Homo sapiens: one gene and its partner. The protein of the gene in region 1 purifies or fractionates together with the protein of each later gene. This does not show direct contact. Each region holds a gene or a part of one and is shown in the gene's direction. Other genes may lie near its edges. The genes, in order: GAREM1 and EPS15L1.

Region 1 (3,817 bases):
TAGGACAGGTTGAGGACATGCTGGTATATTTATAAATGTTATAGGTGAAATCTTAAGTTTTGTGTTGTCCTCATCCTGTGTTTGCCTTTTCCCCAGTTTTAGTACTGCAGGTACATTTTACATCTGCACACGCCCACCCTATACTTAGACATGAAAGATAGTCATTTTTCAAATCACTTGTTTTTAAAGAGACTAGAACAAAATTGAAAAACATGCCACTAGTTGACATTATGCCAAGAGGAAATGATTGGCTAATTTTAAATAATTTTTAAAGAACATTAAAAAATCTAATTTCACAACTATTGATTATCAGAAGCCTACTATGGGCTGGTACATTTCTAGATGCATAATATGTATTGTCTCAAATCCTCAGCAACACAATTTTTAAGAACTTCAGGAACCTAAGATTCAGAAAAATTGACTTGCCTGAAGACTCGTACCTAGTAAATGGTGGAGTGGAATTTCCAGCCAACCTTCTGACTCTGAAGACTGACCTCTTATCTCAAACTGGGCTACCTCCTGGTACTAAAGGAGAGAAGGGTTGAAGTTGTTCTGACATCTGCTCTAAATAGGTTCACTGTCTCTCTGAGAGCTTGAGGACTGGAAAGTCAATATTTTAAAAACAGTGTAGACACCAAATTAAGTGCTGGCCTCATCCATCATACATACAACTTTCTGCTTGCCAAAGGAGTGGCTGAAAAGAGGCAAGAGGCAGTGGGGAAGAAGAGGTTACAGAACAGGAGAAAAAAAACATTGGGGTTTGAGGGCCTAGTAACGTAGATGTGTCTGTTGAGATGACTCTTCAGGACATTTGCCATCCTTAGAATGAATATTCACTACACAATATATAAAGAACTCTCCAATTCTTTGCATTATACATGCCACTCCTGAAGTGCCAGGTAGATAGATGTGTTCAATATTACATCCTTGATGGTGAAATTTGCCTTTGTATGATAAGATAAATACAAAATAATTGAGCCTTTATAAATGTTGCCCCACAAGTTTTTCTGGAGAACCCAGAGAAAGGTACTCTAGCAATTCTCCTTGGGAGATTTGATGAGATGTATCTCATCAGCTGAGGTCTAAGCCCAGTCAGCAGTGCAATTAAGATCAGATATTTAAACTGATTGATCATCAGTCTTATAAACTGTTGACTTTAGAACTGGGTTCAGCAAATGTGCTTAGGACCAAGGAGAGGATGGAGAAAATACTAATCCTCCACCCCCAACCATCCTCACTCAAAACTGGATGGGTGGGAAATTGTTCATTTTCTCTCTCCTCCTCATTTCATCTTGGATAGACCCTGAAGGCTTGTGTTAGAGTAGCATTCTTACAACCTTTTTGCTTCTATGCCTCCTAAAAGATTTGGTGAAACTCTGTCCCTAAGCACATTTTTCAGTTAAATGCTAAAACTTTTCATTCTAAGTTTAAATGCTTGCAGGGGATGTAATTTCTCAGCATATTGTAACTATTCATATTTTAAAGTATTACATCATTCTAAAAACTCTAGTAAAATATATATTTGATTTCTAATATCATTTGTTTAAAAATTCATGAGATTCAAGAATCAATCTTTTGAAAGTTAAACATTTTACACCTTTTCTTTATCTCTTTAAATTCTTACTCCATTTCTCTTCCGCTGTATAGAATTCTGTCTCAGTGTAATATATTTTTATGCTTGAAAGTATTCTATTGATCACTCTGCCATACTCTCTGTAACCAAAAAAAAAAGTATATAGATTGAAATCTAGTATTTCGTATTTATTTTGATCATAAGACTTTCAATATTTAATGATTTCTGGTTGTTTTTAAAACAAAGAATTGGAAATTACCTGACTTAACAGAAATAGTTGTTACCTAAATAGTGGAGACTTTAACCCTGCAACACGAATCAATATTTTTGTTCCTTTGTTTGTTTCTCTACCCAAGGTCTTTTCACCCTCAGGCAATGCATCTTAGAAAGATGTAGAGAAGGTAATACAAGTGCATTACTTTTGTAAAGTGAGTGAAGAACCATTGTGAAGGGGAGATGGTGAACGACAGGTTCCTTCCATCACAGTGAAGGTCATCACAGGATGGATGTCCAACGCAAGCGTGGACCCAAGCCCATTAATTTTTAAACAAGAGTACGTTTGGAAATTTCAAATGTAGAAACTGATTCCTTTACAGTTGTGATGATGAGACCCTTGGGAAGTGTTAGCTTTGCCCCAAACATGTACCCCAGTTTAAAGAATGCTGGTCTAGCACAATAAAAGATGTGTTAATGGCCCTGTTTGCTGAAAGGAAAAGGAAGACCAAGGCTGCATGGAAAGGCAGGGAGAGGGAAGAAAAAGAGTAGGAGACTGCTAAGTAGGTAGAACAGGAGCAGTGACCGTCTCTCCTTCCTGGCTGTGCATAGGAATCAGATCAGATTCTAAGTCCCGGATGTGTTGGGACTGTGGGAAATTTGGTCCTTACTTTGTGCTCAGAGGCTTCTGCAGCTTTATCATTTACTGGCCTCTAGGAGCAAAAACATGGACACTTAGGCCCCAGGGAGGCTCCAAGTGGCTGTTTGTAAACATCAGAGGTCTTTCTCGGATCCATGTTTTATCATTGAAATTGAAGTAAGTTCTCAAAATCTACTTTGTAATTGATGTCTTTTTCTTTTTCTTTTCTTTTCTTTTTCCCAAAGTAACTTAGTTTTGCTCTTGGAAGATGTTCGGTGTTCATCTTGTGGCTTCATTTCTCCTGGCATTCTGTATTTTAAGAGAGTACACATGGCCAGGGTGGGGGGAATGATAATTTAAAGAATACTGGATTTGGAGCCAAGAGACCTTCGTTCTGTTAGAGGTACTGCCATTTCATAGTCATGTGATCTTGGTCAGGTCTTGTAATCCCTTTGATTTGTAGTTTTCCCGTGTAGGAAAACTAGACGTTATACTTGCCCCTATTCTTCATTCAGTAAATTGTTTATTCAGTCAACTAACACTTAACTAAGCCCCTGCTATGTGACAAGCCCTGTTACAGGTGTTGGGACTATAGCACTGAACAAATCAGACAAAACTGTATGTCTTTGTGGTGCTTACATTCTACTTATTATAGGAATTAAATGCAATAATATATGTCAAATACATGTGTGAGATGGCTGTAGTAGATACGGATCAGTTGAGGGAGGCTTCAGAGTATAGCATATCATTTAGGTAGCAGCAGGTTTTATTGTCTTTGTACAGAAGAAGAAGCTGAGAGAAATGCTCTGGGTGACTTGAGTGTGTTTCGTTTTGAGTATTCCAGGTTATTGATCTGGTAATCCGCAGGTTATAGAAAGGTGGCGAAAGGTCTTTATCAGACAGAAAGTGTTATAAACTGACTAATCTAACCAAGATTGGGCTTCGGAGGGACTGGAGGAGTTTGGAAAGGAACTTTACTTTTTTAAAAAAAGAGATGGGTTCTCGTTTTGTTGCTGAGGTTGCCCTCAGACTCCTGGGCTCAGATGATCCTCTGGCCTCAGCCTCTCAGGTACCTGAGACTATGTAGGCCTGAGCCACCACATCTGGCCAGGAACTTTTAATTTAATCCAGAATCACAGGTGAGTTTTACCAAATGGTACCGAAACAGTGAGCTTAGACACTTACATCTTTTTTTTTTCTTTTTGTGTCGCCCAGGCTGGAGTGCAGTGGCTCAATCTTGGCTAACTGTAACTCCTGTCTCCTGGGTTCAAGCAATTCTCCTGCTTCAGCCTCCCAAGTAGCTGGGCTTACAGGCATGCACTACCACGCCCAACTAATTTTTGTATTTTTAGTAGAGATGGGGTTTCACCATATTGGCCAGGTTGGTCTTG
Region 2 (3,817 bases), on another chromosome or scaffold:
GGCCCCTTCCAGATTGCAGGGCCCCCTCTGCTAACTGGGCCTTGGGTCTGACAGTGAATTGATTTGAGGCCACAGGAGGAGACTGATACCAGGCCTCGACCTCCCCTCTTTCTCATCCATGTGAGTCCTAATAGAGCCCAGGACAGCTCGCCCTCCAACCCTGAGGAGGAGCCTCTTAGATGGACTCACACAGACAAGGAGTCTGGAAGGATCTCCCGCAGCTGGTGGCCAGAGGTCAGCTAAGGATGCAACGGCGACCCCGGTGGAACCCTGTGGGACGGGCAGAGGCGGACAGGCAGGCCGCAAGGGTGGGCTGCAGGGGAGTTTGTCTCCGAGTCCTTCTGTGCAAACCGTGGGAAGGAAGACTGTTTTTCCTTGAATATGCAAAAAGAAAGCAGCAGTCCTTATGCTGGCCCAGAACTGCCGGTTGAGAGAAAAGTGAATTTCCATTTCCAGAAGTAGGGCTACAGGCAAGGGGGGGCTACGGGCCAGGTTCTCACTGGCCTATGCTGGGCACGGCGGTGCAGGACACTGAGTGGGAGGAGACTCCTGGACCCCAGGAATGTCACCTTGTTTGGCGCCCTCCTTCTCATTTCCACTTCACAGATAAGGAAACGGAGGCCAGCTGGGAGGAGGCACTTTCCCTTGCCGAGGCCCAGAGCTAAAGGTGGCAGATGGGGGCTGTAGCCCCGGAGCCCACAAGGACACCTGGGGCCTCAAAAATGAGGCCTGGGATGGCTGATCTGCTGGGGGAACAGAGGGAAAGGCTTTAGATCTGGGCATGGAGAGGGACCGAGGCTGGCCTGTGTGGGCTCGTTCTACCGGATGAGGAAGGCAGGTGTCCCAGGCTCAGGTGGTGGGCGGGGCAGGTGTGGCTGGGAGCCAGGGTGCTCTCTGGAGGTGCAGCCAGAGATCCAAGGTCAACCCTGGAGGGACAGGCAGTTCCTGGTTTTTTCTAAACATTAGCTTCGAAACTTCCAGAGTTAACACGCCGGAATCGTGTTGCATATTATTGAGCTTCCAGTCTGGGGTGCTGCGTGGACCACGTTGAATGCCCAGGGACTCCGTTGGGCAGATAGAGGGGTGTCAGGAGCATGGAGTCAGCCCGGCTGGCCTGCAAACTGCAGATGCTGGAAGGCCCGTCAGGTGGGACCTCCCGTCACCAAGCAGATCTTAACAGGCCTCTGCTTCTTGGTGGAATGTTCTGGTACATTGGCAGGATGCACTGGGAAAAGCTACCATCCTCAGGCCATGTCCCCCACACAGTGTCATTTTCCTCCATTTCTGAACACTTCTCTCTCACCTCCCTGTCAAGATATACCTTGCTGGGACCGGGCATCCTGGAGTTCCCTGCTTGGCAGAAGCCCAGAAAGGCCCAGATAAACGCTGCCCCTTGGAGCCACCAACACCAGAGGGACAGAAGTGGGGGCTAAAAAAGAACTTAAGGCCAGGTGCAGTGGCTCATGCCTGTAATCCCAGCACTTTGGGAGGCTGAGGCGGGCAGATGACTTGAGGGCAGGAGTTTGAGGCTAGCCTGGGCAACATGGCAAAATCCCATCTCTACTAAAAATACAAAAATTAGCCACGCATGGTGGCTCATGCCTGTAGGAGGCTGAGGTGGGAGGATCGCTTGAGCCCTGGAGGCCAAGGCCGCAATAAGCCATGATTGCACCACTGCATTTCAGCCCAGGTGACAGAGCAAGACTCTGTCTCTGAAAAAAAAAAAAAAAAAAAAAAAAAAAAGAACTTAAACCTCAGCATGGCAGAGCTGTGTGCAGACCCTTATAACTAACACACCGAATAACCATACCACGTTGTGAAACTAATTCCTCCTTTTCATTTGCAAGTAACTCTCCCCTCTGCCTTTTTTTTTTTTTACTGTTAGAAGCTTGCAGTGTATTTTTCTGCTCAGCCATGATTTTTTAAATTAGTATGTTAATAAATGTGTTGCCATGCTAAAATGAATCTGTTTGAAACGTACCTGCATGCAAACTATTCTAGGACAACTCAAGTTTTAGCTGCTCTGTGTGCGTTGTGTATGGGAGTCATCTGAAGTGTTTTTCCTGTGTTGTTCACAACCCGTTAAGCCCCTGGGATAAAGCTGATTAAAACTGGGATTCCCCAGGGTACCCCCGTCCAGCCTGTTAGCCAAGTTACAAGCTTTTCTCAGAGAAGCGCCCCGGGCTTGTGCCCACCAGCATTCTGCTCTGTCCGGGTGAGTAACTCATATTTCTTTCTTTCTCCTTTTTTTTTTCTCCTAAACTTTCCAGGTAAAAGTACACCTGTAAGCCAGCTTGGTTCCGCAGACTTTCCCGAGGCCCCCGATCCATTCCAGCCACTCGGGGCTGACAGCGGCGACCCGTTCCAAAGTAAAAAGGGGTTTGGGGACCCGTTTAGTGGAAAAGACCCATTTGTCCCCTCCTCTGCAGCTAAACCTTCTAAGGCCTCTGCCTCGGGCTTTGCAGACTTCACCTCTGTAAGTTGAGTCCTCCGCCTCCGGGCCACCCCACTCCCTTCCGCTTGCAGCTTCCCTGGGATTTTTGTCTCCTTTTAAAGGCAAACCTCCCAGCTTCTTTAGCCTCTTGGTACCTCACACTCTCTGTCCCTCGCGTTATTTATTCTACACTGCCACTTCTGTAAGAAAAACAGTTTCTCAATAAAAAAAAAAAGAGCCGCAGTTTGGATGCTCTATCATAAGGGCACGTTTTCTTCCAGCAGGGAGGCGGGACCTATCTGTCCTTCACGGTAGATTCATTGTATTATTTCTGACGCACCGAGGCTGTTGTGTTCACTGGTTTTTGGAAGCCAAGATGTCAAACACTTCCGAAGTATGAAAAGAAGATTGCGAAAGTTACATTAGGGTTCTGCTGTCCCCAAAAAGCCCTTTGTGCACAAGTTCTCACAGTCCCGCCCCATGCATTTTGTGCCACAAGTGCAAATTGAAGGACTTCAGGCAGATCGCGCCAGGGAAGAGCAATTTGAAGTTTTTTTTTTTTAAAGCTTTTAAATTTCAGTTACCAGCTCCAATGAAAAAAGAAATCCAGTCTAGAACAGCCACTCTGAAAGCCAAAACAAAAAGAGCTCCAAAAAACTGTTGAGCAAAGTTAAGTGCCTTTTCGGAAGCAAATCTCGGGATTTCGAAAGCCTGGCTTTGTTTTTCTCTGTGTGAAAAAATATTCCAGATTGTAACATGCCGTCGCTTCAAGGAGTTTTTAGCAGCTTCCTTGATACATGAAAATCTTGTTCTCTGAAAGCTTCAGGTGTTGTCTTCCCAGAATTGGTTTCACTATGTGTGATGCCCTCGCTTTCTTCCTTTGGGCTTGTTAGTTCCTTCATCATTAGGTGTGAGATGTGTTATTTATAGATGCTTCGACTCCTGGGATGGCTCTTTGAACACAGCCCTGCCATGTCAATGCACAGAAAGCACCCGATTTGTTTCTGAGCCGTCTTGATAATCTCTACCGTGCACAGCTATCCTATGGCTTATTTGTCAATTTATTTATTTTAGTGACAGGGTCTCGCTGTGTTGCCCAGCCTGGTCTGCATTGGCGCGATCAGAGCTCACTTGTAACCTCGAATTCCTGGGCTCAAGCGATCCTCCTGTCTTGGCCTCCTGAGTAGCTGGGACGACAGGCGTGCAACACCACGCAAGGCTAATGTTTAATTTTTTTTTTTTGTAGAGGTAGGGTCTTGCTGTGTTGCCTGGGCTGGTCTGGAACTCCTGGCCTCAAGCGATCCTCCCACCTTGAAGTACTGGGGTTACACGTGACTGGCCCATGTGGCTTATTTAAATCGCCCAAGACCCTGACCTGTTTCT

What was found.
Region 2: the proteins of GAREM1 (region 1) and EPS15L1 purify together in Homo sapiens (affinity purification with mass spectrometry; one large-scale study listed by BioGRID and IntAct). This does not show direct contact.

Annotation. Positions count from the first base shown.
Region 1 is NC_000018.10:32,464,088-32,467,904, reverse strand, and holds part of GAREM1 (GRB2-associated and regulator of MAPK protein 1), read left to right. Parts: intron 1-3,817.
Region 2 is NC_000019.10:16,360,438-16,364,254, reverse strand, and holds part of EPS15L1 (epidermal growth factor receptor substrate 15-like 1), read left to right. Parts: intron 1-2,270; coding exon 2,271-2,476; coding exon of another isoform or gene 2,477-2,485; exon of another isoform or gene 2,486-2,677; intron 2,678-3,817.